Linked DNA regions of Homo sapiens. The protein of the gene in region 2 interacts with the protein of the main gene of each other region in a biochemical or structural test. Each region holds a gene or a part of one and is shown on either strand. Other genes may lie near its edges.

Region 1 (8,553 bases), on a different chromosome or scaffold from region 2:
ATTTCACTTAGATTGCTGTGTTTTGAATTCAAGAAAGAGATCTGCTCATAGATGAGAAGATCCTCATTCCACGTTGCAGAAGCATTGGTCATTTTTACTCATTTAATATATAGTTATCCATTTTTTAATAACAACTATGGTATGATGCATTAGGTTCCAAAGTACTCACCGACTGGGTAAATAGCAAATGCCAAAGTTAATAAAACTAAAACTTTAGTCCAAGACCTCCCACATACACCTAAAGGTAAAAATTATGAATTAAAATATTTACATAAATTAACTTAGGTGTCATATACCTCTTAATGGTCAAATGGTCAAGGTAACACTACCAAGAAAATTAAGATGATCGAGGTGACAAACATCGAAGTACTTTTTATAATCTGGCAAAGCAATGTGAATTCAGAACTACCACTCTAGACCCAAGTCACTTCTGACCTTATGAGAATTTCTTCCGGACAGAGACCACATCTTAGCCATCTTTATATCCCAGCATCTAACCTAGCACCTAGCAAATCAGTCACTCAGTAGTAGAGTGGATAACTTTTCTGATTGTACTTGGAGGAGAGAAAATATTAAAGGCCTGGTTCTCATCTGTATTCACTTCCAGAAATTCACAAGCTGAAAATATTGACCATTTGTTTCAGGTAAGGAGCTTCTATAAATTAAGGTAGGCACCCCTGAAAGAAATGTTTCAGTACTTAGGAGCAATGGCTACAGATACCTATTCCCCAAAGTCCAAGTGAAAAGCATGACTTGTCTGGCAGCTTGGCCCTTTTCCCACATCCAAAATAATCAGTTGTACAAAGTAGGCTTAGTCCCAAAACTGCTCAGACTTTGTTCCTTCAGTAACATCTGGGTTCAGCATGATTCCTGACCTCTATCTCAAACTGGAGATTTCAAACACTAAAAACTTCACTCTCCAAGAAAGTAATGTCATAAAGTCAAGGCCAGGGGAAACAAAGAAGCCAGGATTAGCAGAAACACTTCGGAGAAAGGATTCTGACATACATATAAATGTTTCTAAACGTCTAAAATATTGAAATGACTTTTCAAGAAGGAAATTTTAAGTGCACCTCCTCAGATGAAAAATATTCATACTACTGAGGAGAAAGACGTTTTTCAGGAAGTTAAATGGTCATACCAGGTAGATAAAATAAGCTTTTTCTTTCCAGAGAGAGCATACTCTTCTCTCTGCTGTAGAGTTTGGCTCCAAAAACCTGGTTCATAATCTGAGACCCAAAAACTGATTATTTTAAAAAGACATGTCTTAAGCTGACCTAGTTTGGAAGCCTGAATGCCTTTAAATTGCCAATGAACTGAAACCATTCATGAGAATGGGCCTTTTGAATGCTGAGAATGTTCTTTGGGACTCAGCACAAAGATATTTGGCATAGATGACTGTAAATATTTGTAAAACTCTGGGTAAATGGGCAGGATTTGACCACACTCAAGCCCGACTTCCAGCACAGTAGTGTAGGAGAAAGTTATCTAGGGTGATTGTTTGGGGTTTTGGGGGGTTTTTTTGGTTGAGTTTTGTTTGTTTTAAATAAAAAGCCAAGCAACCCAATTCTACTACTCAACATCTTTTTCACGTTCACTATATATGTTTACCTTTTTTTAATCAAGATAATTAATTAGTCAGAGACTACTTTTGAAACTGAGGTTTTTCCCTTTCCCACTTTTCTAAGTTTATGCCCACGACAAAAATAAAAAAAAAAATGCCAGTCAAAGGTGTGCAAGGGCAGAGCAGGAGTTGTGTGAAACCATGACCTTGGATTTCATAATACAATTATCTACAAGTGGCTTTGTGGATCTGCTATAGGTTTTTCTCCCCCTCAGGATAGTTTTAGAAGTATTTAAGGCACTGCTGTCCATGAAAAGGACCCAGGTTGTGAAGGAAAGATAAACTAAGGAGAAGGAGGGACTCACAGAGGGATTTGATGTGAAAGGGACCAAGAGGCTCATTTCAGTGAAAGCTGCGGCAGACAGATACTCTAATTAGCCAGCAACTCAGTTAGGACTGGCTAGGTTCCTTTTGCCTCTTACCCACACCCTAAAAACTGAGTCATCCCAAAGTTCATTTATTTTGCTTCTGGGCACAGACACCCCCTAATCTGCTTCCTCAGAAATGTTAGATACATTGCCATTTAATTTATACCTCTCAATGTTCAAATAAACGTCCAGAAATGCCAAATCGGAAGAGCAGAGATAGTCCTGTTAAGAACCTCAGAGCTAATGTTTTGATAAGATACATGTGGCAGAAAGCAATATGAAACTGACAGTCTGTTATGAGAACATGAAAAAAGAACATTTCCCAGAGAAGGGAATTAATTTCTGGGAAATCTTTATGTGAATAGTGTATATGCATGAGGAGTAGACTTACAGCAGGATCCTTGAAACTCATGAGAAAAACAAAAGGTGTTTTAGAAAGAATAAGCAAAAGATACCTACCTTTTCCCTGCACAAACGACAATCAGTTCGATTTTAACTTAAATTTGAGAATGGCTCTCGTAGTATCAGAGTTTCACTGTTTCATTAGCAATTACCTGATAAAATAAGCACTATAATGCATAATCCGAGATTATGCCAACTTTTGGTCTCCCCTTAAGACCTAGGGAGAGGTCTGGTCTAATCTCGGATTCTACAATACATTCTATTATAGAAACTGTTTTATTAGAAATGAAACTACTTTCCTTTAACAAAGGCATTTTTCTTCTAAGTTAACAGGTGTTTAAGGCATTCAGAATGAATTCAGTTCTGTATGGTTTGAGCACTAGAGACAGAAAATCGAAAAATTGTGGTGTCACAGTGAGTTTCCTGTCCTTTTTCCTTAGTCCAGCAACACCATTCCGGTCTTGCAACGCCTGTAGCCTTTAAAAAGCTCGCTAAACCTACCTGGCAGCAGACCTGCGTTCCTCCGTCGCCGGGCTTCTCAGTAGCCTCCCTCGCGCTCACCGCCAGTCCGGGCTGCTGGCACACCGGACAGGAGCTCTTCCATTCTCTCCGTCTTTCCTCCGTGCTCTGCGGCTGACAGCTTTACACTTTGCAAGACTGCAACAGGACTTGCGCTCCCAGACCTACGGGTCGGGAGGAGGCGGAGTCCCCGACCGCCTCCTAGCCTTGACTGGCAGCTGCGATGCCCGGGACTGTTGCAGCGGGAGCGTGGGGCACAGCTCGCCAGCAGCGGTAGCAGCGCGTTTATTTATACAGGAAGCTCAGGCGCCGCACTTCCTACTTCCCATGTGGGTCGTACTTCAGCTGCAGGTGTTGGCCTTAACCCTATCCGAACCCGGGCGCGCTGCACCGACTCTACTGCTTGTCAGGACCTGTCTCTTGTTCTCCTGGGACCGCTGTTGCAGGAATTCAGAGCAGGGGGTGCAGGCAGCTGCCCCTAGCGCACTTCTTCTGCCCAGACAGGGACAGCTCACCTCTTGGCCTTAAGCGCCTGCTACCTCTCTGTCTGTACATATCCTCACAGGCCACCTTTCTTTATTTTCTCCCTCCTTCCCAGCTCTTTAAATCTCTTTCTTCTACTTCTAACAGCCCAGACCTGCCTTCCCACGTGGCAGACAACTGTTTTATAGAAACACTTCCCATGCACATCTCATCAAAAAACAGCTTGTACCTCACTTGTCCTTTTGCATCTAATGATGAAATTAGAATACCTGTGAATCAAATCGGGAATAATCTTAGTTTACCTCATAAAATACAGACACTTCTTGATGAAACAATGATTTCACTTGAAGTGCTTTGTAACTTAACTGGTTGTACCCTCAATTAAACAAAAATGTAACAAAATAATCCAGAAGCTGTGAGGTATTATGAAGTGCTTCCTTGCTCCAAACCCTTGGACACTTCATTTGTGTGACATTCATAATGAATCGCATACCTACTCATTCCCCATATCCCCCATAGATCACAATCACCTAAGTCTGCTGAACATTGCCATTTAGGAATGTCGCTCTGACACAAGAATCTGTGTTCACTCTGCAATCCCTCTCTACTTTTGCAACCACTGTCAGGAATGTGCTTCCTAAAAGGAAGGGACTCACAGGCCCTTTGTGGAAAGGATCTGTGCACGCCAACAGGCACCATTCCAAACGACACAAGCAAACATTGCTTCTCAGCCCTCCAAGTTGAAGAAAACCTCTAGGTCAAAGCAAAGTGCTGAATAACACAGTGTATCTACATGTGCCATGCTAGGGCAGGTAGGAGGACCAGCTCACCAGTCAGGGAGGAAGAGAAAAAGGACAGGGGCAATAAGATGATAAAAGAACCCACGGTAGGATATTTGAGCTTGAAAAGTCTTCCTAGCTATTTTAGCAAATAACCTGATTTTAAAAATAAGGAAACTGGGCTGGGTGCGGTGGCTCACATCTGTAATCCCAACACTTTGAGAGGCCAAGGCGGGCAGATCATCTGGGGTCAGGAGTTCAAGACCAGCCTGGCCAACATGGTGAAACCCCGTCTCTACTAAAAATACAAAAAATTAGCTGGGCGTGGTGGTGGGTGCCTATAATCTCAGCTACTCGAGAGGCTGAGGCAGGTGAATCGCTTGAACCTGGGAGGCAGAGGCTGCAGTGAGCCGAGATTGCGCCATTGCACTCCAGCCTGGGTAACAAGAGCGAAACTCTGTCTCAAAAAAAAAAAAAAAATAAGGAAACTGATGTCCAGGAAGATTTAAGAGATTGGCCCAAACCAGACACAGGCCAAGCTAGAATGAGACCTAAATCTGAGTTACATGAGGAAGGTGAATGTAAATGAAAACCATCCCAAAGGAAGTCCAACCTTCAGATTTAGCAATGGCTTAGGTTCTGAGATAATCTATTTCAAGGAATTTTCTTGGTATAGTGACCATTTTGGTGGACAGGAACTAGGAAAGATAAAAAGCAACCTCTAAGAGGTTAGTTTATTCATTGGTGTTGATGCAAATCTCCTGAGCCTTAAACCAAAGTTCAACACAGAGTCCACTTTTCAAATTACCATTCATAAATTATAATCTCTTGTTAACAGGATAAGGGAAGAAGCTGCTGCCAATATGAATGAGAACATAAGCACGAATAGTGCTGCCTATTATCCCAAATATTTTGCACAACTGAGTAACATCACCACTGATTATTTTCAACCATGCAACTATGCAAATTTTTTTTAAATTGCAGTCAAAATTTAATAAGACTAAATAAACACGTTGAATGCTATAATATTATGTGAACAAACTCTCTCAGATCTTCCTAAGGAGTCTACAGTGTGAATGGATATTCATTCTCTGGAGCATTTATTGATTTCCTCCCAGACAATCTGCTAGGTTGTATTAAGATAATGATATTAGACATGGTCTCCCTGTCCTCAAAGACCTCTCAATCCAGGGAAGGAGTAAGACAAGCAAATCAATTATCAGGGTACTGATAGTTGTACCCAATGTGTGAGTGATACATAATGTGTGATATGATAGACTTAAGCATGATGTGCTATTGGGAGCACAGAGAAGAAGAATTTAAAGGAAAGGAGTTGATGAAAAGAATCAAGTCTTCTCTGAGAAGGTGATTATATTAATCTGTTCTCACATTGCTATAAAGAAATAACTGAAACTGGGTAATTTATAAAGAAAAGAAGTTCAATTGGCTCATGGTTCTGCAGCTGCACAGGAAGCATGGCTGGGGAGCCCTCAGGGAGGTTACAATCATGGTAGAAGGTGAAGGGGAAGCAGGCACGCATGTCTTACGTGACTGGAACAGAAGCAAGGCGGGGTGGGGCAGGGAAATGCCACACATGTTTAAACAACTAGGTCTCTCAAGAACTTATTGTCACAAAAAACAGCACCAGGAGATAGTGCTAAACCATTTATGAGAACTCTGTCCCTATGGTCCAATTACCTCCCACCAGGCCCCACCTCCAACATCGGGGATTACAATTCGACCACGAGATTTGGCTGGGGACACAGATCCAAACCATATCAGTGATTTAAATCTATGTCTTCAAGTAGCCCAATAGGTGTGGTAGAGAAGGGTAAACCAGGCTGAGCAAACAGCTAAAACAAAGGGTTAGACATGAGACTCTAGGTGAAATTTTTCATAATTCAGACAGAGCTGATACATCCAGAATAAATGAATGAGGGTCTGAGCTAATGCAGTGACAACTGCCATGCAAAGGAAGGGAACCAATGGAGAGAGATTTCAGAAACAGAAGTGATGGAACTTGGTATCTGATTGGATGTTATATTAGTCCATTCTCACATTGCTATAAAGAAATACCTGAAACTGGGTAACTTATAAAGAAAAGAGATTTAATTGGCTCACAGTACTGCAGGCTTTATAGGCTTTAAGCATGATGCTGGCATCTGTTTGGCCCTCTGGAGAGGCCTGTCACATGGTCAAAGTAGGTGCAAGAGAGCGTTTCGGGGGGAGGGGGGAGGGAGGCGGTGCTACACACCTTTAAACGACCAGCTCTCACAAGAACTCACTATCCCCAGGACAGTACCTAGGGAGATGGTGCTAAACCATTCGTGAGAAATTTGCCCCCACGATGCAATCACCTCCTACCAGGCCCCACCTCCAACAATGAGGATTACATTTCAATATGAGATTTGGGCAGGGACACACATCAAAACTATATCAGATGCAGGGGGATAAGAGAAAAAGAATAGCCCCAACTGCTGGCACCACTAAGAGGGGGAATAAAAGAGAAGTGATGGTAAGGAAACCATGATAATTCAAATTAAGATCTATAGAATCAGAAGTGCCTCTGGGGCATACTGGAAAAACTGACCAGTAGGCTATCAACAGAGAGAGATCTAGGGTGGAGAGTCATTTGGGAATTGCCATCATTTAGGTGGTGGCCATAGATGAGATTACCAAAAGCTAAGACAACCCACATGCTATAGAGGGAAGCAGAGGATTTGGACCTTGGCAAACTCCACTACCCACTCATTATTATGTAACCTTAATGAAGTTATTTAATATACCCGAAACTCAGTTTTCTCATCTATAAAATAAGAATGATGACATTCATCTCATAGGCTGTTGTGAGGGTAAAAGTGGTTTTTTTAAGTAGCTACCAAAGTGCCTGATACACGGAGATGCCTGCACGATACAAATCTTGATGGGCCAGGGTGGTGGTTGGGGTGGAGGCAGTGACTGGCAGCTCCTGGAATTGTGTACTGCACAACCTGCTCAGCTGTACACCATGGTCCTGGCCTGATACACATTAGGAACTCAGTCAGTGTTATTTATCTAAGAAAGGGAAAGGGGAAGGAAAAGAAAGGGTTAAAAAAAGAGAACCCAAAAGAACATCAGTATTTAAAGGGTAGGTAAAAAAAAGGAGCCCTCAAACAAGTCTAAGAAAAAATTGCTTATTTTATACTACAAAAATAAAGGTAGGCCAGGCACAGTGGCTCACGCCTGTAATCCTAGCACTTTGGGAAAATCGCATGGCCTAAGCCCAGGCATTCAAGATTAGCCTGAGCACCTGTGATAGTGAGACCCTGTCTCTACAAACAATAAGAAATACATTAACAAGACATAGCAGCACATACCTGTAGTCCCAGCTACCCAGGAGGCTGAGGCAGGAGGATCACTTGAGCCCAGGAGGTCGAGGCTGCTGTGAGCTGTGATCACACCACTGCACTCCAAGCCTGCGCAACAGAGTGAGACCCTGTCTCAAATAAATAAATAAATACATATATTTTTTAAAAAAATAAGTAAATGTAACATTTCATATTTCAAACTGAAATGTAAAATCCAGACACTACAATCTACAAAAATATTTTTTAACTTTCTGAGCAATGACATATTACAAATTGTTCACCAGAGATTGTGCCTGTAATCCTAGCACTTTGGGAGGCCAAGGCAGGTGAATCATTTGAGGTCAGGAGTTCAAGACCAGCCTGGCCAATGGCTCACGCCTGTAATCCTAGCACTTTGGGAGGCTAAGGCAGGTGAATCATTTGAGGTCAGGCGTTCAAGTCCAGCCTGGCCAACATGGTGAAACCTTATCTCTACTAAAAATACAAAAATTAGCCAGGTATGGTGGCACATGCCTGTAATCCCAGCTACTCAGGAATCTGAGGCAGGAAAATTGTTTGAACCAGGAGGCAGAGGTTGCAGTGAGCCGTGATCACGCACCACTGCACTCCAGCCTGGGCAACAAAGCAAGACTCTGTCTCAAAAAAAAAAAAAAATTGTATTAACTGATAATATACCTAAAGTCATATAAAAGCAAATCAAAATAAATCTAAAACATACTTAAAGTTTTCCCTGCATGTGAGGCCAAAAAATAAATATAATTTACAGATCCTATATATGTGTAAGATACTGAAATAATATGTATCTACTACATAATATATAACATATAATAGGTATATATTATAAAGTGCATTCTACCCCTATATAAGAATCAACAAGTAGAATTTCTTCTTTGGAAAATTATTCTCTTTAATCAATAAAGAAAAGTCTAGAGTTGTTCTTGATATTATCCTTCTATTCTACCTTAGTACCTACGTTAGAAACACATACCTTAGACTTTACATCTTCCTTACATCCTGTGGTTAAAACATAA
Region 2 (7,894 bases):
TGGAGAAATGAACTCTTTGAATTTTCTTTTAAGACTTTTCCCTCATTATCATTGATGAATGTCATCACACCAACAAAGAAGCAGTGTATAATAACATCATGAGGCATTATTTGATGCAGAAGTTGAAAAACAATAGACTCAAGAAAGAAAACAAACCAGTGATTCCCCTTCCTCAGATACTGGGACTAACAGCTTCACCTGGTGTTGGAGGGGCCACGAAGCAAGCCAAAGCTGAAGAACACATTTTAAAAGTAAGTCATAATTTTATGTATAACCAATGAAAGCAAAGCTAAAACAAATGCCAGGACTTCTTGGTCTTATTAAATAAGATTGAGTTCAAGTGCTGTGATCATCAGTTAAGTGAAATCTGTTTGCTTTAGTACAATAAATATACTCAGTCTTCTACAGAATACTAATATGCCTTAATAAATATCAATAACACAAAATCATATCATAAAAATGATGGAGAGTGATATAATTAATGGGAAGTTGAGATAAATAGAATGCCTTCTTTTGAACATCTACTCTTATGGTTAAATTTAATGATCTACCTGATATAGAAATATGCATAAACTATGAAAGTTTCTAGTTGTCACACATAATAAAGTCTTACTCCATGAGTTTCAAAACTGCGTATTTTCTGTCCTTCATATGTTATTCTAGGAATCTAGGTAATTCAAATTAAAGGGAAATAGGGATATGAAGATCTTTAAAGATGAGCTTGTCAGCTGCCCCCTAATGGTAACACCACATACAGTGCTACTGTTAATCTTGAGTGTTAAGTAAATCAGAGTAGCCCAAGAAGTATTTTGGTACCAAGGCAATTGCATTTGAATTTTAAGTCCCTTACTTTAAGTTGAATTCAATACAAATTATGTAGAGTAGACACAACATTCAGAGATGCAATTATAGGCTCCAAAATATAATTTATTACTGGGATTAAGGACTAATTCCAATCTAATAATCAAGGAACATGACTAAGGATGCTCCCAGCTTTATGTGTAGATGCCTGCTTTATGTGTAGAAGAAGGTGGTAGTATGATCCACGGATGTCAAGTTGACCTTTGATATGCCTCATGTAACATGGTTATCTCAAAATCATTCTCTGTCAATGATGGTAAATTGTTATACTCTTTCCATGTCAGTTTTCCACTTGGAAAATGGAATTTAAGGAATGAATATCAATACACCTTTTTCTCTGTTATTACACCAACTTGATTTAGAAGCTCCTTTTTCCTATATTAGGACAAATGTTGCTGATTGTGGGTTAATGAGATCCATAATAAAACAATGTTAAAATGCTATATTTAGCAAGCAATGCTACATATTACTTTCATGAAATTTTATACCACATATTTATGCTACAATTTAATGCTACATATTTTTTACATGAAAAAGAGTTCTACGTTGAATAAAGTGAAAGGGAAAAATAATTGCATAAATATTGAAAAATGTCTCTTTTCCAGCTATGTGCCAATCTTGATGCATTTACTATTAAAACTGTTAAAGAAAACCTTGATCAACTGAAAAACCAAATACAGGAGCCATGCAAGAAGTTTGCCATTGCAGATGCAACCAGAGAAGTATGGGCTTAATGTTTTATATCTATTGATTGACAATACTACATTCAGTAGAAAGATGGCAAAGGCTATTTTATACTGACCATCTGAAAAATATTATTTAAAAATTTTAGCAAACAAGTTTCAGGTTTTTTTTTAATTGATGTTAGGCAGTAAAGCACTACAGTGAATTCTCGCCTCTAGACCTCTTTTAGTTTTCTAATTTACATGAGGAATAGCTTATTCATTGTTTGTACATATGAGTTAAAAGGGACAGTGAGGGGCCATGGGCAGAGGGATGTGTAACTAAGCTGGAGGGGTTATGACAGTTCGTTTTAGCCTTTTTAATTTTCTTCGTGAATTCCAGGATTGATTTTCTGACATTCCACAGAGCCATTTTGTTGCTATCAAATTACATTTGGCAATGATAATGGGAATCCTATCTAATTTGCATACTTGCATATTTACTTTCTTAGGAAAACAGTGCAATGGTAAAGAAGTGAAATATTTACTTTAATGATGCTTTTCTGATGAATTTTTCAGGAATTATAAGAATAAACTGAGAGTCAATTTGGACATTATGGCCAGTAAATTATGTCAATACTTTATTTTGTAAAATTTAGAAAGCATTACAAATTCTGGCCATATGTACTTGATAATACCATTGAAAATAAGAATGTTGGGATCAAATGATATGAAATATGCATAGTAGATAAAACAATGCTTGAAATATAGTAGGCACTAAACCAATGTTAGTAACTAGCCTCCGTATATCTCTTTTTTTAAATTCTGAAAAAGACTGCTATCTACTCCAGCTGCACTAGCACAGTTGAATATATTTTATTCACTTTCCTTTTTTTGTTACTTATTTGGTTTTACTTGATAATTTTAAATGCATGTTTCTACTCATAAAGATTTTTAAAACTAAATTTCTCAGGTACATTTTTTAAAAGAATTTGCCATTTTTTAAACTTACTTTAATTTTTTTATATACCTTGAAGCATAACATACATACAGAAAAGTACAAATTCATATGTGTACTGATTGCTGAATTTTCCTAAACTGAATACACATATGTAAACAAAATCCAAATCAAGAGACAGCACACTGCCAGTATCCTAAAAGCTCCTGGCTCCCCCTTCCAGTCACCATGCCCCAGGAATCACTACTATCTTGACTTCTAAAACAAAAAATGAGTTTTCACTGATTCTGAACTTTATATAAATGGAATCATATAGCATGCACTCCTTTATTTCTGGCTTTATTCAGACTCTACTTCAACTTTTTATTTTGGTCGAAATAATACTGAAACCAGTTTTACAAAGGAGGAATGTTTCTTAAATTACACTGTAAGCTTTCTAAATAATTGTGGCATTAATGCAATATGTGTTTTCTAAGTTACCTTTAACATACAAGGTTTATATAATTCATTAACTTTACTTTTGTTAACCTTTTAAGTTGGAGATTCCAGCAGAGGTAACAGGGTGTTGGTGTGGGTGTGGCTTGATGGCAGGCTTAAAAGAGAAGCTGACAAAAATAAATGTACAGACAAGTGATGGGACACTAACCTGTTACTTTGTCTAAACAAAGATGAATCAGATTTATTATAACCTAGAAATTATTCTAACAAAGATAATGTTATTCCTTTAACAATAAGAATACATAAGAATAAGTGTGTACTTTATTTTTAGGATCCATTTAAAGAGAAACTTCTAGAAATAATGACAAGGATTCAAACTTATTGTCAAATGAGTCCAATGTCAGATTTTGGAACTCAACCCTATGAACAATGGGCCATTCAAATGGAAAAAAAAGGTAATTTAGGTTTGGACCTAACACTTAGTTTATCCCATGTTTATACCAAGATTTTAGATGACTATATCACAGATTCCCCAAAAAATGGAAAGCAAAAGTAGTTCCAAATAGAATTTCTGTGTTCTCTGTAGGACAAGCATAATAAACATGTTCTAATTCCTTTTCTAAGGAGAGAGATTCCAATGCTATCCAATTTTCTCTTTGTCTCCAGAGTCTTGAGATAAACTTTAATAGCTCTGTCTCCAAAGGCAAACTCAACTAATATATTTTCATGCCATTTCTCTGTGCATCAGCTACATGTTTTTGCTGAGGCAGAACTCAAGCAGCAAGTCTAGGAGTTGGAAAACTTGCCCTGTTTCAGAGCTCAGGACACATTTTGAGCCTTAACTTGCCCATTTTAAAACCAAGGTGAAGCCAGTTTTGCAGTTAGTAACATATATTCAAGTCCATGGCACAATTTTAGGGGGTTTATATGCTTATTATTTCACTTACATAATATATTTTTTCACAGCTGCAAAAGAAGGAAATCGCAAAGAACGTGTTTGTGCAGAACATTTGAGGAAGTACAATGAGGCCCTACAAATTAATGACACAATTCGAATGATAGATGCGTATACTCATCTTGAAACTTTCTATAATGAAGAGAAAGATAAGAAGTTTGCAGTCATAGAAGATGATAGTGATGAGGGTGGTGATGATGAGTATTGTGATGGTGATGAAGATGAGGATGATTTAAAGAAACCTTTGAAACTGGATGAAACAGATAGATTTCTCATGACTTTATTTTTTGGTAAGATTCAAAGTAACATATACTGGTGTCATTCATTTACCTTTTCAACATGAACTTACTGCTTCTCATAAGCTCTCCAAAAAGAGAAATATCTTTTGAAAGAAGAAATCCCACTCAGATTGGAACTATTTCTAATGATATGACCAGATTAGCTACCAGTTGTATGATCACAGTCAGTCATTTGGTCATTCAGTTTTATTGTCAAGACAATTGTAATGAATTTATTTATTAAACCATCCTAATTATTAGATATAGCGCAAGATTGTAGATGAGCCACAATTCATGAAACCTTCTAGTGTAATTCGTTGTATGTTTTACTAATTTATACTTCCAAATAGTTTTTAAATTAATTAATTTTTAATCAATAAAACTGTATATTTTTGGTGTACAAAATGTTTGATATATCTGTACATTGTGGAGTGGCTAAATCAAGCTTGTTAACATATCAACTCTAATTATTTCTTAAAGAAAACAATAAAATGTTGAAAAGGCTGGCTGAAAACCCAGAATATGAAAATGAAAAGCTGACCAAATTAAGAAATACCATAATGGAGCAATATACTAGGACTGAGGAATCAGCACGAGGAATAATCTTTACAAAAACACGACAGAGTGCATATGCGCTTTCCCAGTGGATTACTGAAAATGAAAAATTTGCTGAAGTAGGAGTCAAAGCCCACCATCTGATTGGAGCTGGACACAGCAGTGAGTTCAAACCCATGACACAGGTATAAATATCCTTTTGGACGACTTCTTTTCTTTTCTTTCTCTTTTCTTCTTCTCTTCTCTTCTTCTCTTCTTCTTTTCTTTCAGACGAGGCCTCGCTCTGTCACTCAGGCTGAAGAGCAGTGGCATGATCAAGATTCACTGCACCCTTGACCTCCTAGGCTCAAGCAATCCTCCAGCCCCAGCCTCCTGAGCAGCTGGGACTCTAGGTGTGCACCACCACACCCAACTAATTTTTTTATCTTTTTTGTAGAAAAGGTGTCCCACTATGTTGTCCTGGCTTGTCTTAAACTCCTGGGCTCAAGCCATCCTTCTGCCTCTGCCTTCCAAAGTATTGAGATTATAGGCACGAGCCACTGCGCTCAGCCTGGACTTCTTTTCTTATGCTGTTATTACTCTTCTCAAATTGTTTTTAGTCTTTTTCTACCAATCCTCTCACCACCCATGAATACATTTACAGGATAAAACACCTGTTCTTGAAATAAAATCTAAGGCTAATAGCAATCAAATCTGTGGTTTTTGAGAGGTTAAGTGTTGTTTTAGGAGTCATTTTTCCCACATAATAATTGGAAGAACTTTCTAAGTTTCCCTTGCAAAAATAAGTGACATGTAAGCTTAACAACAAAGTTCAGAAATGATTGCCATGTAGTATCAAGTGGAAAATTCAAACTCCCACAAAAATGTGTTCGTTATAACTAGAACTATGCAAAATATATTTACATAGAATGAGACCTCTAGGGAAACTTGAAAAAACTAAAGAATTTGATATATTAGAGATTTGGGATTCTGGTAAGTAGGTTTTCTGTTCCATTTTAAGGTGTTTTGTTTTACTTTGTTTACATGTTGCTTACTGTGGGCATAGTAAAAAAACACTTGGGTAAGAAAAAAAGGCACTAGTAGACATTACAAGCATGCATGAAGCAATGATGCCTTGTTAGAGTAAAATATTCTTCTGAGGGCTAAAATCACATTGACCCTGAGTCTTTCTGGACAAATGGATACTTCCTTTCTATTATAGTTATCACTATTCAAGCCAATGGAGCAAATTAATTCTGTTTCAGTGTTTGCTGGAAAAAAATTCTTGAAATGGTTCACTATAACTCTTTATATACCCTCTACATGCACTCCTGTGAGCATTGCCAATAAAATTAATGCCAGAGAAAGTACTGTTTTCCTTGGGTAACAAGTTTGCTTCCTTCTTTTTGATGAGATGTAGTTTGCTTTATATGTTTTTCTTTTTGCCTTAGCTTCCAGAAAGCTAGCAGGAAAAACTCAAGTTCAGTCTCACAGCCTCTGTGTTGATTCTTATGAGTTCTGTTTTTAAATTTCTATTATATTAACTTTAGCGTTGTGACTTTTATTGTAAGAGGGCTAAGCTTCTCTGTAAAAAGAGGTAGAGTGCAAATGAAAAGCCTATGTTCAAGCTACTTTCTGCTCCTTATTCATTTCAAACCAAGGGGCTGTGTGCCAAAATACAGAACATATTCCCTTCCTTCCCCACTCCTTGTATCCTCACCTTGTAAACTGGGGTGGACAAACTCCTTAGCAATGGTGTTAGGCATCTATGTGATGTGACTTGAAGATCTGACACTGTCTGGAATTTTTGTTATTAAAGTTACTCCTTCAAATTAAGACACAGGCATCTTCTGCTAAAATCCAAGAACATGTAAGTTTTTATCGGGAGATGTGAGGGCCGGAGGGAGAAATTTTCAGAGAAGACTCAAGAGAGGCCTTTCTACAGGGTTCTCCGACAGTTAGGAGTAGGAGTCAAATAAGGACTCACACTGCCTCTGAGAAGAAAGGGAAGGGGATGGAAGAACATACTTTTGGTCTGGCAGCTTTATTTTTGTTTAATGTATGGGGGCAATAGACAGTGTGGATGTGCACCAAATGCCAACTGGACCAACAGCTTTGATGAGAGTGGTTATGAAAATAAAACCACATTGTCCATATCAAGCTAGGTTTGTGCTCACTCATTTCTCCCATGTAAGGATGAGAGGTCATATTTTAATTTATTTATATTGACTTTCAAAATTCAGAGTTTTTTCATTTGAAAATAGTTTTATTTACAGTTGCATAACCTCTTCTTTCATTTTTATTTATATTGTCCCTTTGAATTGATAATATATTTACCTCATTCAAAATTAATGAGGCACAAGGCATACCACTGACCTCTAGTCTTCCAGCTCCCCTCCCTAGATGCAGCTGATGTTTTCAGTTTCTCTTGTGTCCTTTTGGGAATATTCCATAGCTTCTAACTCAAATGATTCTTAAAGTGACCAAATGCATATACAGTGTGCATTTTCTCTGTGACTGAAAACAATATATCAAAGCATCTCTGCATCTTATCCTCTAAATAGCAAAGATTCTGAAGTTAATGTAGTGGGGGAAAAAAGCCCATTTTAGCTTCTGATTGTCATATCCTCTTCTCAACCGACAGCTCCTCCTTTCTTCCTCTGGAGTCACCCATCAATTTATTTCCTTGGCATAAAATGTGGTCTTCCCACCTCCAGACTGGATGATGGAAATATTTTTGTTATTGTGTGGTAATCCCAGATTGGAAATCAAATGTTGTCTCACCATTATGTCTTTGTTCAATGCCAAAAACAGATGGCAACAAATCCATGTATGATCTAATCCTTTGATTTACACTGACCAGTTGCAATTTATTATTTCTTCCTCTAATTAGAAGATTTTAATGTGTTTAGCATCACAAAATTTAATTTATTAAAATGTTTCTACAGAATGAACAAAAAGAAGTCATTAGTAAATTTCGCACTGGAAAAATAAATCTGCTTATCGCTACCACAGTGGCAGAAGAAGGTCTGGATATTAAAGAATGTAACATTGTTATCCGTTATGGTCTCGTCACCAATGAAATAGCCATGGTCCAGGTACATTCAAATACCTCTACTTACTATGTTAATTTTTATTTGTTGTGTTCCTATTTTAATTGCTTTCTTTTAGTTAAACAGCAAAAACATCTTTTTAGTTTTTAAAACAA
Region 3 (8,748 bases), on a different chromosome or scaffold from region 2:
CATCCTTGGTAATCATCAGAGAAGATATACAGATAATAAGAAAGCATATGAAAAGATGTTTAACATCATTTATCATTAGAGAAATGAGAATGATTGACTTTAGGGTTAGGGAAGAGAAATACAAGATAAGACTGGAGGATTTTGTAGCGGTAGAAAGTAAGAAAGTGCTACTCCCTCTTCCCCACAAAATGACAGGAGTTTGTCAAAGGGACACAGATGTCAACTGAAAAAGTTCCCAATGGCCAACACAGGAATAATCTGAGCAGTAAAATAAACAACATAGTATTGGATTATACCCAAAGTATAAAATAGGAATCCATGAATTCATAATATAAATAATTGAATAAATAGGAGATAACTGACAAATTTCTCATGCAGAAGAATGTAGATACTCCACCGCAAGGAGGGGAAATATAACTACTCACTTTTTTTTCTTTTGAGATGGAATTTTGCTCATCGCCCAGGCTGGAGTGCAATGGCAGGATCACTGCAATCTCTGCCTCCCAGGTTCAAGCAGTTCTCCTGCCTCAGCCTCCTGAATAGCTGGGATTACAGGCGTGCACCACCATGCCTGGCTAATTTTTGTATTTTTAGCAGAGACGGGGTTTCACCATGTCGGCCAAGCTGGTCTCGAACTCCTGACCTCAGGTGATCCACCCACTCAGCCTCCCAAAGTGCTGGGATTACAGGCGTGAGCCACCGTGCCCACCAACTACTCCCTTTTTAGGCATGGGCTGCACATAGTGACTTCCCACTAAACAGTAAAATAGGGGGAGGGGAAAGAATAACTTTACAGGGAGAAACCCATCAAATACTACCTCAGCCGGGTGATCAAGGTTAACATCAACAGTGATGAGCAATGTTGACAGCATGTGCCCCGGATATGATGTGATGACGGTTTTTGTATTTTCCCGTTCTAAAATTTCCATGGGGCTATTCTTTGTATTTTCTATTACTTCTCTGAGACTTTTAAACTTTCCATTTGAATAGCAGCTTTATAGTCTTGATAATTCCAACATGTGTGGCAACTTACATTCTGCATCTGTTACATTTTTTCCCAACGTGAGTTGAGATTTTCCTGGTTCTTCACCTGCCAATTAATATCGATTGTATCCTGGACATTTTGAATGTCATTAGGATGCTCTGGGTCTTGGTTAAATTTGGTGGAGGATGTTGATATTTATGTTTTAAAGGGTAATTAACCCATTTGGGTTCAAGTCATAAGTTTTGACCAGCCTTCTGAGGGTTGTGGTTCCAATGTCAGTTCAGTTTTCAAAGCCTTTGTAGTACTCTTCTGATAGGTCCCACATGGGTGGCACCTAAAGTGTAACCCAGGGTCCTTGGGTTTTGGGTACGCACTGTGAAAAAGTTACACACTTGTAACTGTTACATCTTGAATTTTTGTTTTAAAAAGTTCCAGGAAGAAGCTTAGCCCAGGAAAAACAAAGACCAGTTGGACCCAGAGATGCCTGAGTTGGAGATGAACTTTGGCCAACTTTCCTCATCACCATACTTAAAATCCTGTCCAAGGAGGAGCTTATTCACCATTTTCTATACATGTGACATATGTAGCAGCATAACCGACAACTGGGACTGCGCTGCCTTGACTCCACCTCTACATACAATGACTCAGCTAACCAGACTAATAAAAGCCATGTTTGCACCATTGCTCAGGGAGGCATTGCTTTGGGGAATTATTCCCAGTGTCCTCCTTACTTATCGCAAGTAATAAAATCCCCCTGGGAAATCCTCCTTGGTTGTGGTCATTGGACTGTCCCCTGCCAAGCAATTTAACCCATTCATTGTGTGGGTAACAAAAGGCCAGTCTGGGACATGAGATCTGGGTCTACAGTTTAGTTCTCAAAGTCTTTGGCATGCAATTTAGGACCAGATTCATCATACCAAAAAAGGGAGATAGTCTCAACAGAATTCTCAAATTACTTAAATATCAGAGGCAGTGTAGAGAAGGAGTACTTGGTGGTATGGTAGGTTTTCTGACAGGAAACAAAAGATGGAGGTAAAATGGAACCAGTACTTTCTTTCTGAGAATACTGACTGCACCAACCATAACATGAAGCGAAGGCTATATCTCCCTGAAGTAAGAAATGTAATAAAGGAAACTTTCAGAAATAATAGATCATCTGGAGATGTTGGGCAGTGTATTTGGTAAGTTATAACTACCAGGTATCAATACAATAAGCTTAGTTTGAATACAATAAGCTTAGTTTCTTTTTAAAGAATTTATCCTGCTCTGTGTTCTCTGAGCTCCTTGGATTGGTTTGGTGTCTTACAAATTTTGGAAATTCTCAGCCATTATTTCTTGATTTTTTTTTTTTTTTTGAGATAGAGTCTTGCTCTGTCGCCCAGGCTGGAGTGCAGTGGTGTGATCTCAGCTCACTGCAAGCTCCGCCTCCCGGGTTCACGCAATTCTCTTACCTCAGCCTCCCGAGTAGCTGGGACGACAGGTGCCTGCTACCATGCCCGGCTAATTTTTTTGAATTTTTAGTAGAGACGGGGTTTCACTGCGTTAGCTAGGATGGTCTCGATCTCCTGACCTCGTGATCTGCCTGCCTCGGCCTCCCCAAGTGCTGGGATTACAGGGGTGAGCCACTGCGCCTATTTCTTGATTTGATGTTGATATTTTCCCACCAGTCTTGGATGCTGTGTTCTGTTTCTGTCACTCTTTTTGTGTGTGTGTGTGTGTGTGTTTCAGCAATTTCTATTTACCTACCTTCAAGTCTGATTTTTTCCTCAACTGTGTTCAGTCTCCTAATGGGCCCATGGAGGGCATTCTTCATCTCTATTATTATATTTTTTATTTTTATAGTTTCCATTTTATTTTTCCTGATAGTTTCCATCTATTTGCTAAAATCACCCATCTGAGCTTGCATTTTGTTCACCTTTCCCCTTAGGGCCTTCATCACATTAATCACAGTTATTTAAAATTCTCTCATATTTCTAATGTCTATGTCTTATGAATCTGGTTCTAATGATTGTTTTATCTCTTTGGACTGTGTTTTTTCTTGCCTTTCTGTATGCGTCTTTTTTTCTTTCTGTTAAAAGTTAGTCATGTTGTATTTTTTTTGCTTAAATTATTTTTTCAATTCTCTCTTCACAGTATGAAGTAAAGATTGTTTTTATGCTTGGAGATGAGTGTGTCTTTCCTTCTGCTAGGCCTTTAGTGCTCTTGAGTGCATAGCAGTGGTTCGGTGGTATCAGTCTAGTCAGAAATTGGGCTAGGTTTACAGTTTGTTGTTGTGGTTATCCTCAGTGCACAACAGACTTCAAATTTCTCTAGAGATAGCTTATGTGTAGGGTGTGGACTTTATTTTGAAAGTGTGTTTTAAAGAGGTCTGTATGGATGTCAACTCGATGCAGAGTGGACAGTGGTAATTTTGTAATATATCAACTTTGCTAAGCTAAACTATGTTTCCCAGAATTTCCTTTCCTTTTGTTTCTGGTTAGAATAGCCCAACAGAGACATGGTTGTGTAAGTCTTGAAGGGGAGAACTGAAGCATCCCTCCAGTTTTATACTTGAAACGGTGGTGCAGGGACACTAGGTGCTACTGCGGCTCATCTACTTTGTCACCAATCAGCTGGTTCACCTTGTTGGGATGGGGCAGAAGCTTTTCCCTGAGTCTTCCTTCACCTTTTTTGATTCCTGAGCTGTGTGTGTGTCTAGTCCTGTGGCAAAAAGTGTCAGCTCCTCTAGCAAGGATACTCATATCTTTAAAGTTGGAGACAGTGAAAGAATGACCAGCTCGTGTCTTAGGTTCCAACTCATTTTTGCTCTTCCCTACTTTATGTTCATCTTCCCTTCTTAACTGCTTGCCCTGCGAACATAAAGAAACATAGTGATTCCACTTCTCTGAATGAACCTTGGCTGGTATACAGACTTATAGACATTTTGTGATGGAGAAAAATTGTTAATTAGGGAGCCTCACTTAGTAAAGAAGGAAGGTCATCTCTGGTATGGCAGGAATAAAGACATAAGGATTTTAAGGGATTTACCTGAAAAGATTTAAATGACTACTGTAAGGGGAATAAATACTTTGCAGGAATGCTGAAACTTCTCATTCAATACTTAGGTAAACATATAGACACACAGATGCCATAAACACTCATGGTAAACATCAGTAACTGTTAAGAGCATTCCTTCCTGCTTGGTCCCTATTAAAGAACCAGATCCCTTCTCCATAGAGTATTCCAATTTGCAAAGAAAATCCATTCATTAGTTGTCCAATTTAAATGTTTTAGAAATATTCAGTGGAACTTTCATCAATAACCCCCAAACAGATACCTCAAGAACCCCTTTTTCTAATCATTTAATCATACTACTTACTGAGAAAAATTATTATAGGAAAGGCAGTATTTGATATTGGGACATAAAAAGAATGAAAAATCTGTTAAATAAGCAAAAGCCCATTAGCCTGAGGCTGTCTTGGTACTTGAGTTCCCATATAACAAAATACAACCTGACTTAGTATGTAAACGAACTGAAGCCTAACTTACTTTATTTTTTATAACAGCTGGGTTTCAGCCAATCACGGCCGAGCTTCAGCAAATAACAGACAGCCAACTGATCAGACCATGCCCCAATAAGGCAAATGCCTCATCATATCATTGTCAAATAAGGCAGACACCTAGATGTTAGCTAATGAGGTGATTTCTCTACTTTGCTTCCTATAAAAGCTAGCAGGTCATACTGCTGGACAGAGCTCTCTGAACCTCTTTTGGTTCTGAGTGCTGCCCAATTCATGAACTGTTCTTTGTGCAAATAGCTTCTATTAAATTTGTCAGTCCAGAGTTTTTTTTGTTTTAAACAAATATTCACAAGAAAAGGAAGAAAGTGGGAAGAATAAAAAGCAAAGCACCTCAGAAACACAAGATCGAAAATCCACTTAAGGGATATAGATAATTCCCTGAAACAGGTGAGCATATTATTTGTTGAAAGCCTCCATGGATGTTCTTTGGGATAGCAAAATGGTTGCTACTTTTCAAATTGGATACCAAAAAGGCAATGTATCTGCATCTCAGAATCCAAATCATCCCCACGTTAGCCAAACTCCAGGCCTACCAACACAGATCCTTCAAGTCTTCCTGGCCTTCCAGGCCCCTAGGCTGCAGCTCGCCCAGAACTCCTGGGACTCTAAAACTTAAATCGGTCTAACCAGCAGGCGAACACAGACCTGAACCCTCAAACTTGGAAAGAAAGATCATAGGCACCTCCCCGGTTGGCTCCCCCAGGGACCACAACGTCCGGCTCTAACGCCTTGCCCAAGTCCTCTGTAGCTTTCCACAGGCATTTCTGGGTCTCTATAGCTGTTTGGAGGAGCCACTCACCGGTCCCGTCCTGCCCCGCGCCTAGGCCTGAACCAACCCCCTCGCGGTTCCGGCGCGGATACCCAGCAGCTTCCGGTCTTGCGCGCTCAGGCCGGGCAACGTCCGTGCGTTCTTTTTGGGTCCTGAACCCCGGAAGAGAAACTGCGTTGTACCCTTTTACGTGAGGCGGTGACGGCGGTTCGGAAGTCGTCTGGCCTCCCCGCGGCCGCTCGCAGCTTGCTGGCCTCTCCCGCGCCTCACGTCGGACTCCGTCTCCGCGGCAGGGAAGCAGCATGGAAGCTGAGGACATCCAGGAGGAGTTGACCTGCCCCATCTGCCTGGACTATTTCCAGGACCCGGTGTCCATCGAGTGCGGCCACAACTTCTGCCGCGGCTGCCTGCACCGCAACTGGGCGCCGGGCGGCGGCCCGTTCCCCTGCCCCGAATGTCGGCACCCATCGGCGCCCGCCGCGCTGCGACCCAACTGGGCCCTGGCCAGGCTGACTGAGAAGACGCAGCGCCGGCGCCTGGGCCCCGTGCCCCCGGGCCTGTGCGGCCGCCACTGGGAGCCGCTGCGGCTCTTCTGCGAGGACGACCAGCGGCCAGTGTGCCTGGTGTGCAGGGAGTCCCAGGAGCACCAGACTCACGCCATGGCACCCATCGACGAGGCCTTCGAGAGCTACCGGGTGAGCTGGCCGTCGCGGTGACTATGACGGGGCTGTCAGTGTTGCCCGATAAAGTTTACTTAATGCTCCTAAAAGAGCCACGAAGTGGCTGTCATTCCTACTGGAAGCATGAAAAGCCCCTGAAACTCAAAGAAGTTAAGCAAAACACGAATTTCAGAGCTAGGGTTAAAACTGGAATGAGAGGAGGGGAGGTGCAAACCTCAGCAATCATTGTGCAGAATTTTCAATAAACTGGCCCTTGGGGAGCTCATAATAAAGAAAAACATACTGAGAGGGTGTGTGCCGCTGCTGTCCAATAGAAACCACATATGTAATTTAAAATCTTTCTGGTAAGATAAGGAAACGAGGTGACGTTAATTGTAATAATATATTTTATTTAATCTGATTACCCCAAATATTCAAAGCTGAGATGAAAATTATCAATGAGATTTTTTTTTTTTTTCTGAGATGGAGTCTCACTTTATTGCCCAGGCTGGAGCACAGTGGCGTGATCTTGGCTCACTGCAACCTCCTCCTCCGGGGTTCAAGCAGTTCTCCTGCCTCAGCCTCCCGAGTAGCTGGGATTACAGGCACACGCCACCACACCCGGTTAATTTTTGTTTTTTAGTATAGAGGGGTTTCACCATCTTGGCCAGGCTGGTCTCGAACTGCTGACCTCAAGTGATCTGCCCCGCTTGGCCTCCCATAGTGCTGGGATTAAGGTGTGAGTCACCACGCCCGGCCTCAATGAGATATTTTATACTCCTTTTTCATAATAGGTCTGAAATTGGTGTGTATTTTACATTTACAACACATAGCAGTTTGGAATATCCACGTTTCAGGTGCTTGTATGGCTAAATGGATACTGTATTGGACAGTGCCTGTCTGTATCTGTAAATGTCATAGACAGCTGATGATTTGGGAAAAGCCTAGCTTGTAATGATGAGGCTGGGTTTTGTTACTAGCTTCCTTCATCAGTTGGGAAAATCCTGTAACATTTGAATTTGGGGATTATCTGTCCTATCTCATGGGTTAAGAAGCTCCGGTTGAATAAATCACTTTACCTTACTCTGCTTCAGCCATACTGGCTTTCTTGCTTTTGTTTCAAGTCTGTTCTCTTTCTCTACCCACATCTATCCTTTAGATCCTTTTAGCTTTTAGCTTGAAGACCTTCCCTGATCATCCTTTCCAGAGTAGCCCCACCCCCTCCCATTACTGATGGTGTAACTCCAGTGGTCTCCAGCAGAATTGATATGCAGTAAGTACATGAACACATGAATTTATTTATTTATTTTATTATTATTGTTTTTGAGATGGAGTTTCGCTCTTGTTGCCCAGGCTGGAATGCAGTGGTGAGATCTCAACTCACTGCAACCTCCACCTCCCGGGTTCAAGTGATTCTCCTGCCTCAGCTTACCGAGTAGCTGGGATTACAGGCACCTGCCAGCATGCCCAGCTAATTTTGTATTTTTAGTGAAGACAGGGTTTCACTATGTTGGTCAGGCTGGTCTCGAACTCCTGACCTCAGGTGATCCACCCACCTTGGCCTCCCAAAGTGCTGGGATTACAGGCGTGAGCAAGCTTTCCTGGCCAAACACATGAATTTAATGACACAGTGAAAATGTTTGGAAACTGTAAAATACTGTACAGTTGTACCAGCTGACTATGAACAGGAAACAGACACAAAGCTGGACTAGAAAGTGTATGTTCATTCCTTCACTCAGTAACGTTTATTGATGCTTACTATTTGCCAAACATTGTTTTAGAATCTGGACATAAGTGGATGAGAAAGACATGGGCTTTGTCTTGTAAGGAACTTAAGCGTGTACAACATTAATTTCAGTGTGTGTGAGAGTAGCTGAAGTATTTACCAAGTGTACAGAAGGTCTGAGGTCGGAGTGATCACTGAGGAGTGAGGAAAGGCTCCGTTGAGGAGTTAAATGTGTTAGCTCTTCAAGGGTGAGTAGAGGTAGGAAAGAAGGTATTTCAGGCCAAAGGAACAGCATATTCCAAATGTGGTGGAGTGGGATAGCATGTGGTGTGTGAGAGGACTGGAGGTTGCTCAGTACTTCTGGAGCATGGAGCATGGGAAGGAGGATGGTGGGCCATGAGCTTGAAGAAAAAGGCAGGGCCTTATCATGAAGGATCTTGTTTGCCATAGTAAAAAGATTGAACTTTCTCTTTCAGGCAGTGGGGAGTTATAAAAGGGTTTTAAGGCAGGGAATGATATGATCGTTTTTTTTGTTTTAGACAGGTAACTTTGACATCCACGTGGATGAATGGAAGAGAAGACTAATTAGGCTGCTCTTGTACCATTTTAAGCAGGAGGTAATAAAGACCTGAATTAGTTCAGGGCAGGGATGATGGAGAGGGAGGGATGGAGTGATAATGAGCTGGAGTTGAATGACTTGGTGATCAATTAGACTTGGTGGGTGAGAGAGAGAGGAGTCTTGGATGGTAGTTCAGATTTCTGCTTCAGATGGCAGGTAGATGACTGTCAGGTTAACTGAGGTAAGGTACACAGGAGGAAGCGTAGTCTTAGGACAGAAGATCCCATGCTTGTGGAATGTACTGAGTGTGAAGTAATTGTGACAGGAAGTCCAAGGAAGAGGGACAGGAGGTGGGGTGCCTTGGAGGCTAGAGATAATATTTTAGAATCCTCAGCCTGTTCTTGAAGTCATGGAAGAAGTAAGAAGATGAGATTCTCCTAGGAGGACCACATAGAGAGTAAAAAAAGGCACAAAGAGAAGCTTGGGAAAC
Region 4 (4,660 bases), on a different chromosome or scaffold from region 2:
TTGCTTTACATGTATTTAAGGGAACATTGTGATTTTCAGAAAGTGGCTTTACATACTATTGAATTGCTATTTCCCAAGTTACTTTACAACCAGCAGCAGCATACCAATAAATTACAAAAGCAGAAAATGAAAATTAACCCTAGGTGTTCTGATGATAGAGAAATAGCTAAATTAGAAAAGAAAGATATGGATAGATGCTTTTAGGAGGAAAACCTTTTTAGAATGGCAATGACCACTTGGATCTAGGTCAACATATTCCAAAATGTGTGACCTTGGGCTTTGTGTTTACTGAACTCACTCTAGAAAATTCTGGACCTGATTCATTAACCCCGCTTTTCTTCTCTAATGTGTCCTGAAGCTGAGCTAGATGATGAGTAAATTCTTTGCTGACTGTTGCTCATCACTTTCTCTCAAAGTTAGAACTTTTCAGTATAAAAATAATTAGCTTTTAACTGATTATTAATTTTCTTTAATAGTTTCTGTCAAAACTTGTCTAAAATTTGTGTTGTGCCAAATTGGAAATACCCACTATAATATGGTGCATTCAGTTTACTCCACAAGTGGTTAACATTTTAAGTCCTAGATTTTTTATGTCTTGCCTTTGTATAAGCATCGCTTTGGGGAATACCAAGATGATTCATTATTCAGTGATTATTTTCTTGAAAGATAACTATGATGATTGGCTGTAAAATCTTCACCCTAATAAAGGAGTGAGATCTCTGTGTAAACAGCTTTCTGAAGGACTGATAATAGAATAGAACTTGCAGCCAAAGGCTTTTTCCCTTTTGAGAAGACGGTATTTGTGTAAGGAGTGCTAAGGTAGACTTCATTGTACATAGAGTGCCATATTCTGTTGAAACGATCATAACAAAATCAAAACCTCATGCTTCAGCAAAAAGGAAAAAAGATTTTTAAATTACTTTGTCTATTACTTACTGCTCATAGAGAAGTGACTATATAAAATGGTCCAATTTTCTCATTTCTGGTGGTGCCTGTGAGTCTTAAAGCCATATCTGCTTATCTTACTGTTGATAGAATACTTTTTTTCTTTTTAGCCCATGATAAGTAATATGGGCAGGTAGAAGCAAACTGGAGACTGTCCTGTTAATGCTGCATGGGGCACAATGTCTTTCAAATTATTGGTGGAAGAATCTCTTTTATCCATGGCGAGAGGTAAGAATATTAAAGAGTCAGGATATTGTTGCTCCTGGTATTTAACAACTGTCATTAGAAATGCTGAAATTTAATTGTAGAGAAGTCAAGAAAGAAAGAGTAAACTGAGAAAATCTTACTACTACAGAGTCACTTTTACAATGAGACCTGCACTTTATGCCAGCACTGTTTGTGAGGAGCAGTACTGCCTTAAATTAGTTTGACTCTGACTGATGTCAGTGTACGTTACTTCCTTTATGTGACTGACAGTCAGCTTTCCATTGAGATATAACATTCACAGATGATCCCCAAGTATCCTTGTCATCAGAAGCTTTGGACCTTTTCTGCCACTGACTTGTGGCTGATCTGTAACACAATAAATACATAATTTTATTTCATGTTGTCTGTCCACCTCTGAATAAGCAGTGGCATGACCAAAAAGACTGGTAGAAGGAGAGAATTTCTTGGCCAAATCCTTCATACCAGGTACCACTTCTTGAGTAACTGAGAGTTGACTGTCTTCTATGGTGACTACATAGAAGATATTTCCAAAGGTTCTGTTATGCAGTGAAGACATTCAGATTATTTGTAAGAATTTCACCAACACCCTTGTGTATTGAAATGCTTAACCATTAACAGGGAAAAAAAAGGAGAAAACCGAACAAAACAGAGACATTTACTTGAAATGGGAGGTTTGCTAATGTGAAGAGTGTTTCTGTTTTATTACTTATAAGAGAAAAGCAGGAAAACTTTTGCTTTGATAAGAAAGACACCAGAGTGGTGATTCTGTTTGATGCCACAGGCTAACACAATCGTGTAATCATGTTGAGTTGTAGAAATATATGGCCCTAAAAACCATTCTCTTTCCCTTATATATATAAATATGTGAACACTGCCTAGTAACATTTTAATAGATTTAAGATGCATTTGTACATTCTCAGCAAACTAGAAGAAAATGTTTTTTCTCTTTTTGAGTTAACTTCATAGCATAGAGAACCAGCACTGTGCAGGTTTCAGCATTTCAGATAAGGGCATAATTAATTGTGTAACTTAATGCCCTGTTATTCATTGCTGAGGTTCATATAAAGAATAGAAAAATTGAAAGATGGGTTTGGGCGACATTTTCTTCCCAAAAGATCAAGTAAGGAGTAAGAACAAGTAAGGGAAGACAGCTAAGAGAACATACTATGACATATCATAGAATTGGGATACATTTTTGTTGCACTGGATTTCAGGCTATACTGCTAAAATAATTTCTACCTGTTAAATTTTGTGAGAGGGTTTTTGACATCAGAATTTTTGTATTTCTGGTCAAATTGGTCTTGGAAATCCCTATGGTCTCTAATTTCAGCTCTTGCTGTAAACTGCAAGCCAAATGCTCTTTCTCAGAAAGAGCTATATTTTTCTCTTCTTACAGGCAACCCAATATTTATTTCATAAAGTGTTATAAATATTGAGAAGATACACTGGGGAGATAGCATATAAAAATGATGCTCCAAAATGAGAATTCTATATGGGGCTTTCCCTAAGAAGAATCCATCCCAGCACATATTTTGAAAAGGTGCTGAATTAAAAAGTACAAGAGTTTGCTCATATAAATCAAGTTGCCCAGGAAACCTGAGGTGATGCTATCATTTGTCTCATAATTTAGAAACGTGATCTCTTGAGAGAGAGACTACGCATTGCCTGGGCACTTTCAGATTCCTTAGGAAGTGCCCCTTTGATATTTGGAATGTGGATATATTTATAAAACAAATGGATTGTTATTCCAAATCCACATGGATTTATAACCAAGCCCCAGAAGAATAGGCAGCTTTGAAATAGCTAGTTCGTGGAATTGAACAGAACCTTGATGGAATGCAGTTGCCTGTGTGAGGACAGAAAACAAAGAGGCTGCCTCAGACCACATGCCTATCTAGAGATTAAGTGAATTTGTGAGGGACATTTTGTGGATGCCTTAAAGATGACCAGTGGTGGGTTCTGATGGGAATATATACACTCATCTGGACTAGGCCAATGGAAGCAGTCTCTTTCAGTTCACCTCCGTACAGCACAAGTTGTTCCTGCTCATGACCTCATTGAGGAAAATGAGAATTGTGGTGCTGGTGACTTTCATGTGTCTTGGGAGGTTGAGGTGTTCAACATCGTTAAGGCACTCCCAAAACGCAAACCTCCTTTTTTAAATGCCAATTGTACATCTACATTAATTCATCTATGCAAACTTGTGTTTTCATGGTTTGTTTTTTACACTATATTTCTCATTAGGTTCTTTAAACATCAGGTTTAATATTGATATTATGAATAATTTTTAAACCAAAGTATTCTATAAGTCTGTGTGCTTTGTTTTCCTGGATGGTTTGACCAAGGTAAACATCAGTCTTGTCCTTCTCTCTTAATAAAGTCATCCATTTGTTAAGTCAGTGGTCTCTGTCTCATGTTTTTGTTTTGTTTCTTTACAGCATTCAAGGACAGGGAAACTTACGAGAGTCTTATTATAATTATTATTATTTACAAAATGACCCTAATAGGTCTGTTTAGTAACAGTGAAATTTTTTCTTACTCCATTTCCATACACTTTCTGTAAATATGTATAACATGATAATGATGCCTGGTGTATTGAAATCCTCAATAAATACTGCCAAGTGTGGATCAGTTGGAGAAGTAGCTTTGTTTTGTGTGTGGTGTTTCGTGGTTTGATTGATATATTTGGGAGGAAAAAAAACAGGTAAGTGGATGTTCACACAATAATTCCAGTGATTAAAGACCCCATGCACAACTCTGCACTATACCTGACACCTTGTGGACACTTCAATGTATTTTGAGAAATGGATATTAATAACTGATTTATTCAATATTTTACCTTCATAAGAATTTTTTTTTTCTTATTTGGTTTGATAGAATAGCCACAATGTAGGAAATGATTCTGCAAAAATTAGGTATCTTAAATATAATATTTTCAATGACTACTAAATTTATTTTTAAAGATGTCACTATTTAGCCACCCCTACAGTAGATTCTCTAGGCCTCAGATTCCTCTGTGGCAAATATAGCAGGAAATCTAAATGATTTCTGTAGTCTCTGCTAGATCCTGAGTAGTACCAGTGATGTGCAGGTGATACTGTTTTATTTAGTTGAAGATTAGTATGTTGATTTCAACCTTTGGTCTCTAAATAAATACTAAAGTTGCCAGTGGAAAAAGTTGATGCATCTAGAAGCCAACTAAAAAATTAAATATGCAAGTAAAACAGATCCCTTTAATCTGTGGTAAGAGGTACTCAAGGTGATAGGGTGGTTTATGGGGAATATGACTTGAGTCTGATTGTCAGGCTATGGCCATGTGGCCATGTGAAAAGGTAGCATACAAGAAAGTTCCTTCTTTTTTTTTTTTTTTTTTTTTTTTTGAGATAGAGTCTTGCTCTGTCGCCCAGGCTGGAGTGCAGTGGCGCGATCTCGGCTCACTGCAAGCTCCGCCTCCCGGGTTCACGCCATTCTCCTGCCTCAGCCTCCC

Evidence for each region.
Region 1: the proteins of IFIH1 (region 2) and RNF144B form a complex in vitro, tested with the Homo sapiens proteins (one study listed by BioGRID).
Region 3: the proteins of IFIH1 (region 2) and TRIM4 form a complex in vitro, tested with the Homo sapiens proteins (one study listed by BioGRID).
Region 4: the proteins of IFIH1 (region 2) and CCDC50 form a complex in vitro, tested with the Homo sapiens proteins (one study listed by BioGRID).

What each region holds. Positions count from the first base shown.
Region 1 is NC_000006.12:18,381,973-18,390,525, reverse strand, and holds the start of RNF144B (E3 ubiquitin-protein ligase RNF144B), read right to left. Parts: upstream 3,177-8,553; 5' UTR 2,896-3,176; intron 1-2,895.
Region 2 is NC_000002.12:162,273,685-162,281,578, reverse strand, and holds part of IFIH1 (interferon-induced helicase C domain-containing protein 1), read left to right. Parts: intron 1-33; coding exon 34-251; intron 252-1,466; coding exon 1,467-1,583; intron 1,584-3,250; coding exon 3,251-3,374; intron 3,375-3,885; coding exon 3,886-4,164; intron 4,165-4,632; coding exon 4,633-4,892; intron 4,893-7,634; coding exon 7,635-7,784; intron 7,785-7,894.
Region 3 is NC_000007.14:99,916,270-99,925,017, reverse strand, and holds the start of TRIM4 (E3 ubiquitin-protein ligase TRIM4), read left to right. Parts: upstream 1-5,487; 5' UTR 5,488-5,616; coding exon 5,617-6,009; intron 6,010-8,238; coding exon of another isoform or gene 8,239-8,316; intron 8,317-8,748. Other genes in the region: GJC3 (gap junction gamma-3 protein precursor), read left to right, coding at 1,415-1,473. UniProt on the Homo sapiens protein: E3 ubiquitin-protein ligase. Mediates 'Lys-63'-linked polyubiquitination of the innate immune receptor RIGI, this linkage doesn't lead to proteasomal degradation but seems to enhance IFN induction.
Region 4 is NC_000003.12:191,394,861-191,399,520, forward strand, and holds the end of CCDC50 (coiled-coil domain-containing protein 50 long isoform), read left to right. Parts: 3' UTR 1-3,799; downstream 3,800-4,660.